Homo sapiens: one gene and its partner. The protein of the gene in region 1 purifies or fractionates together with the protein of each later gene. This does not show direct contact. Each region holds a gene or a part of one and is shown in the gene's direction. Other genes may lie near its edges.

Region 1 (3,653 bases):
TTTGCCCAGGAGGGCACCCCATCCCAGCTTGTAAAATTGCTGGGACAAAAATGATTATCGTAGAGGAAGTTTTGCTGCTGGCTTTAAAATTTTTATTATGAAGTGACTAAGGGTCTGTGGTTTTTAGCCTTTACTTCCTATAAGGTGTAATCCACCTGGAGAAGATATTTCTGGTCACATTTCTTTTGCTATTCTTAGGAGAAATTTGTGCCTGAATATACGTTGTGTTGCTTACCAGTTATTCCCAGTTGCTTACATTTTTTTAGTGTGTTTGTTTGGTATGTATACCAGGACTGAGTTGTAGACTTCTTGATTTAAAATGTGGGCTTACGTCCTACTCCTAGGATGAAATTGGTGTTAACCATGATTGCTGACATGCATGTTGAGTGAGAATTTGATAAGCTCTCTTATTTGATAAAGCTGAAATTGTTTATTAGAAACCTCAGGCATGGGAAAAGTGTGCTGTCTGTTTTGCCTGAGATTGGGCTTTTAAACTCTAAAACCTAACCTCTGAATTTTTTAATTAGACGAGTCTAAAGTCTTGTCAAGTTGTAACAATTAACAGTTTCCACTTTAGATGAAAGGAGAAAGAAGGAGGGACTCTTTAGCTGTTGGTGAGATTCAGACTTGCCCAGACTGTGCATTTCATTGAAATTTTTTTTTTTTTTGAGGCATTGAATGGGAACTGGTAATCAGAGATTTGTGAATGTGTAAATGAAGTAGTGCTTGTTTCACATCTCCAATTCTCCCTTTGAAGATGTCAATACTGAATGTACCATTGACTTATCTGAGTTATTATCTAAATCACAAAGCATTGTAGATATTGGTGCAAAGGCAGGAAGTCTTTTAAGTAGGTATTCCCTAGACGAATTTCATTTAGTGAGGCTTATCTCACTTTTCTGCGTCTGAAGCCACACTCTTTCCACCAAGAGTGAAGTTTTTTTTGTTGTTGTTTTTTGTTTGTTTGTTTTTTTCTGAGACAGGCGTCTTCGCTTTGTCACCCAGGCTGGAGTGCAGTGGTGCAATCTCGGCTTATTGCAACCTCCACCTCCCAGGTTCAACGGATTCTTCTGCCTCAGCCTCCCAAGTAGCTGGGATTATAGGTGCCCGCCACCACACCCAGCTAATTTTTGTATTTTTAGTAGAGACAGGGTTTCACCACGTTGGCCAGGCTGGAGAGTGAAGTATTTTATTAACTCAATCAGAGTAGTTAGATCAAGTATTTAATGTCTCAGAACATTTTTATTCTTGAATGTGTTTTCATGAATTTGTCCCAGCCGGGTGCTGTGGCTCACGCCTGTAATCCCAGCACTTTGGGAGGCCGAGGAGGGTGGATCACGAGGTCAGGAGTTCGAGACCAGCCTGGCCAACATAGTGAAACTCCGTCTCTACTAAAAATACAAAATTAGCCGGGTGTGGTGGCACGAGCCTGTAGTTCCAGCTACTCAGGAGGCTGAGGCAGGAGAATCACTTGAACCCAGGCAGCAGAGGTTGTAGTGAGCCGAGATCACACTACTGCACCCCAGCCTAGGTGACAGAGTAAGACCCCATCTCAGGAGAAAAAAAAAAAATTGTCCTATTACTGCTTAATTTTATCATGTGAGAGTAAGGTTATATTTCCTCTGGCTTCCCTTTTAAACTGGCTAAGACTGAATTATTTAGGTAGGCATGATAATGATAATTTTCCTTCCATACGGAAAGTACAAGAGTAAGGTTGAAGCCGAGTATGGTGGCTCATGCCTGTAATCCCAGCACTTAAAGGGGCCAAGGTGGGAGGATCGCCTGAGGCCAGGAGTTCAAGACCAGTCTAGGCAACATAGCAAGACTCCATCTCTACAAAATTTAAAGAAAAAGTGAAATTTAAATTTTGCAAATGCTGTAGGTCTTAATTGCAGTGCTGCTGTGGTTCTCTATCCAAAGCTCTGTGGGATAAGTCTTTTTTCAGTCTCTAGTATTCCTTGCCAGTCTGCCTCACTGTGAACGGAATCCAGTACAAGTGTTCCAAAAGTGGTTCTAGGCAAACTTTACCTCCCGGGCTTGGTAACACAGCTATAAACCACAGGAGATCTTTCTAAGATAAATAGTAAGGAAATGACTAGTCAAATAAGCTGTTTTAATTGTTGTCTTTTCTCAGGAGACAATGCTTTGTATGAGGCACGTCATCTCTTCCCAGTTAGACTGGGAACCTATTTCTGGGTTTTCTGTAATGATTCTCTGGAATGAATTGTCTTGTGCTCAGTACCGTGACCTCACCAAAGAATTAAGGTTGAAGAACTGATGTCTTTTTGATTAAGTGATAGTGTAATCATTTTATCCAAGTTTAACTGGTTTATCAATTATTCAGAGTGATAGTAGGGGTTACTAAACCTGTCCCTAGAGAATTGGAAAGAGATGTGTGTGTGGTGTTTTTGTTTTTGTTTTTCTGAGACGGAGTCTTGCTCTGTCACCGAGGCTGGAGTGCAGTAGCGCAATCTCAGCTCACTGCAACGCCTCCCGGGCTCAAGCAATTCTCCTTTCTCAGCCTTCTGAGTAGCTGGGATTACAGGCGCACGCCACCAGGCCTGGCTAATTTTCTTGTATTTTTAGTAGAGACAGGGTTTCACCGTGTTGGTCAGGCTGGTCTCGAACTCCTGACCTCATGATCCACCCGCCTCGGCCTCCCAAAGAGCTGGGATTACAGGTGTGAGCCACCACACCCGGCCATGGAGGGAGATATGTTTTTAAGTGTCCCTTGGTGAATCTGACTTCATCATAATTATCATGCCATGAGTTGAGCTTTCTGAAAGGTCTCTGGACTGATCCCAAAAAATCTGTTAAAAATTAGAATAACCAGTACAGCTTTACTTTTCACTGACCCATCTTTCTGTTTGAGATTGGTAGGATTGTTGTCATTGACAGAGTGAATACCATGGGGCATCAGTAATCAGGATGATAAAACTGACTGGTTTCCTGTGATTACCTTCTTATGGCATTTTGCTCCAAACAGACTGAGGGACCAAAATGGTCTGATAGAGAAGTGCATCTACCTCGGCAGACCTCAGCATGGTCCCTTCCCGTCAGACAGATTTCTGTAGCATTTGCCTCCGCGTGTTATATTTGGAATTGTTGGCCAGCTTTCCTCTCTCTGGTGTTGGCAGCGAGATCCAAAATGAGGTTTTCGAAGAATGAGAGTAAAAAGGTCTCTGTGCACAGGCAAAACTAAGCTCAGCTTGGAGTTTTGCATATTTTCAGTGAGTCGTAACAAAGGTTTCACACATAGAATAGAAAACTGCCTTGCAGAAAATGTTTGATGTTTGAAGTGGGGTTGTTTGTTTGTTTTTGGATACAGGGTCTCCAAGGCTTGATCCTAGCTCCCTGCAGCCTCAAACTCTGGGCTCAAGTGATCCTCCCACCTAAGCCTCCCAAGTAGTGGGACCACAGGAACATTCCACCATGCTGGGCTAATTTTTTAAATGTTTTTGTAGAAATAGGGTCTCACTATGCTGCCCAGGCACGTCAAGCAGTCCTCTCACCTTGGCCTCACAAAGTGTTGAGATTATAGGAGTGAGCTGTCATGCCCAACCTGTTTGAACTTTTAAGGAGGTGGTTTTTCTGATTTTGTTGTGTTTAGCTCCTCATTAGAATAGTATCAGGCAAGTGATAGATTAAAATAT
Region 2 (3,653 bases), on another chromosome or scaffold:
ATTTTCATCAGTTGATGGGAAGGTACATGATAAACAGCTTTTCATGAGTTTGAAACAATACTTTTTTGAATACAACAGCTCTGTTAGTTATTAGGTAGTTTTATTGTACTAACAGTGGAAAAATAGAGTGGGAAACTCCAGCATTATACCTTAAATGGGGCTTATAGAAAGATTTTTGAATATTTCTCAGAGTACTTGCTAGGTACTTGGAAAGTACAGGGATAAGGACTGGCCATATAAATCTTCATTTATTTATGCTAATTTCAGTTCGTTTTAGGAACTAAATGAATGAACATGTCCTTTGCTGAACACCACGCAGTTGGAAATACCTTTTGGGGTGCAGTTTTGGATGTTGTAAATACCTTTGCATAGCTTGGGAAATAAGAAGGTCATCAAGAGTCTGCAGATCCATTGCCGCATTCTGTACTTGATACTTATATCTTGGTCACAACAGGAAGAGGCAGGCTGTTTTATGGTGATAATCGATGTGTTCGTATTTGAATATGCACCAGAAAGTAAGGGAATGGAAATATTTTGTATTTAAATAGGTTTATTTATTTTATTTTATTTTATTTTTTGCGATGGAGTTTCGCTCTTGTTGCCCAGGCTGGAGTGCAACGGCGTGATCTCAGCTCTCTGCACCCTCTGCCTCACGGGTTCAAGCAGTTCTCCTGCCTCAGCCTCCTGAGTAGCTAACCACACCTGGCTAATTTTTGTATTTTTAGTAGAGATGGGGCTTCACCGCATTGGCCAGGCTGGTAATTTTTGTATTTTTAGTAGAGATGGGGTTTCACTACATTGGCCAGGCTGGTCTTGAACTCCTGACCTCAGGTGATCCGCCCATTTTGGCCTCCCAAAGTGCTGGGATTACAGGTGTGAGCCACCGTGCCTGGCCTGTTTTTTGCCTTTCTAACTTGAAATAACTTTTGGCACCAGTTTTTAGAATTCCTAATGCATACTTTTTTTTAGTATGAGGTATAATGAGTATGATAAATACTCCTCTGAAAAACCAAAGTAATGATTAGCTCTTCTAAAACCTGTCAGTTTCTATATGATGGACATTTGTTTGATACATTTCAAATCTAGAGTTTTCCTCAAGGTTTTTGGGAAAAGGCCTTATAGATCATAATTTGTAAGGCGTAAGAACAATCTCAAGTTAATGAAAGGTTATTTCAGACAAACTTCCACTGTTAGAGTTCAGAAAGTTTTTTCCCATGGAAACCGTGTTGTAAGTAATAGTAGCTGTCATTTACATCACTAGCAACTAATTTGTGCTAGCTGTTTTAAGTCACACGTACATTCATTTATCAAAATTCATTTATCATGAATAAATGAATACATACATTCATTTATCAAAATTCATTATAAAAATCCTTTGAGGTAGGCATTCTTTTTACCATCCTTTTATGGATGAGGAAACTGAGGGATAGAGACATGAAGTAATTTATACCTACAGCTACATAGCTAGTAAATAGTGGTGCTGTGATTGAAACCTGGGCATTGCAGATCTGGAGCCTATGTGATAACCAGTGTACTGCACTGCTTTATTGTAAGATAGTGGAATGCTGTAATCCACCTATATGTGAAATGAGTTTCTGTGAGTTGGCCTGGAAACCTAAGCATCATTAATATCCTTATTTAAGTGTTCTTTGTCACCGTTGACCATTACCTAGTTGAAATACATTCCTTTTCACTTCCATAGCACTGTACTTGCCTGGTTTTCCTCCTACTTTTCTGGCCCAACGCTTTTTCCTGTTCTTCACTGGTGTTTACTCCTCTTCTGTCTAATCTCTGCATGTTACTGTTTCCTCAGGGCTTGGGATTGATAAATTTCTTGTTCATTCCTTGCTTTCTCCTGCGGACTCACATCCACGTCCATGCTTTTAAATACTATCTCAGTGGAGATGCCCATATTTGAGCAGACTCTTCTCAGGACCTCAGACTCTTCTGAAAACCTGATCACATAACCAACTACCTCTTTGACCTTTTACTTGAGCTTAATGATATGCTTTCCCCACCCATCACACCTCTGCTTCTCTAGTGAGGCCCATCTCAGTAGTCATACCTCTGTCCACTTAGTTGCCCAGGCCAGATGGTGGGAGTTGTGTGTGCTCAGTCACTAAGACCTACTGTTTTGAATCTAATGTCTTGAAACTGTCTGCTTCTTTTGTATCCACTGCTCCAGCTGGTCCAAGCCACCATTATTTTTCACTTGGACAACTGTGGTAGCTTCCTAACTTAGTCATCTTGGACCTTTTCTTTCCTCTCTTCAATTCATTCTTCTTATACCATCCAGAGTGATTTTTAAAAACACAGATCTACAAGTTTGCTCTTGGTCCTTTGCTTAAAGCCTTTCCATGGCTACTCCTACATATTAGGGTCACATTTTTAAACATCTGTAATATGGTCAGGCGTGATATCTCACGCCTGTAATCCCAGCACTTTGGGAGGCTGAGGTGGGAGTATTGCTTGAGCCCAAGAGTTTGAGACCAGCCTACGCAACGTGGTGAAACCCTATCTCTACAAAAAATAAATAGAAAAAATTAGCCGTGCATGGTGGCGTGCGCCTGTGGTCCCAGCTACTCTGGAGGCTGGGGTGGGAGGATGGCTTGAGCCTGGGAGGTGGAGGTTGCCGTGAGCTGTGATGGTGCCACTGCACTTCAGTGTGAGCGACAGAGTGAGAACCTGTCACACACACACACACACACACACACACACACACACACACACACACACATTGTAATGTGCTCTGTATGGCTCTGCGTTTACTGACCAATTTTTTTTAATTTATTTTCTTTTTTATTTTTTCTTGAGACAGGGTCTAACTCTGCTGCCTAGGGTGGAGTACAGTGGTATGAACACAGCTTACTGCAGCCTCGACCTCCTGGGCTCAGGTGATCCTCCCAAGTAGCTGGGACTACAGGCATGTGCCACCACACCTGGCTAATTTTTAAATTTTTTGTAGAGATGAGGTCTTGCTATGTTGACCAGGCTGGTCGGGAACTCTTGGCCTCAAGCAGTCTTCCTGCCTTGGCCTCTCAGGCGTGAGCCACCATGCCTCGCACTGGCCTGTATTAAATTCTTTGAATCATCCTAAATTCCTTCTTACCTTAAGGTTTTCATACATCGTCTTACCTTCACTTAGATAACTCTCACCCTATCCCCACCTCCCAGACTGACTTGTTAAGGTATCTCATGTGAGAAACCTGCAGTATTTTCAACCCTCACTCCTTGTTGCTTTGTGCAATGGTATATGTTTTCACAGAATATTTTATTTTACTTTCATATTCTTAGAAATATATACCTATGTATTGTTTATGTAATACGTATCTTCTTCAGAATGGAGGTTATTTGAAGAACCCCTATGTGTTTTGCTGTTATATTTGTAGTACTTAGTATTTACTTTAATCCATGGCATATAGTTGGTGCTTAATACATACTTATATCATGAAAGCCAGAACTCTGCTTCAGTGTGGGAATTGGAAGCCCCTTTCTTCCTGTTGCAGCCTCTAATGCCATTCCCCCTCTACCCTGTAGTTGGGACCAAGATGAAGGGTAAGTTTGTGATTATCTTTGGTTAGCAGGGTGGGGATATGGGCTACTACTTGTTTCTTCCTTTCCTTGGTATGTTCTCTGGAACAATGAGTACTAAA

Evidence for each region. The genes of interacting proteins can lie anywhere in the genome.
Region 2: the proteins of PHF12 (region 1) and QSER1 purify together in Homo sapiens (affinity purification with mass spectrometry, with the first as the bait; one large-scale study listed by BioGRID). This does not show direct contact.

Annotation. Positions count from the first base shown.
Region 1 is NC_000017.11:28,944,903-28,948,555, reverse strand, and holds part of PHF12 (PHD finger protein 12), read left to right. Parts: intron 1-3,653.
Region 2 is NC_000011.10:32,895,794-32,899,446, forward strand, and holds part of QSER1 (glutamine and serine-rich protein 1), read left to right. Parts: intron 1-3,653. UniProt on the Homo sapiens protein: Plays an essential role in the protection and maintenance of transcriptional and developmental programs.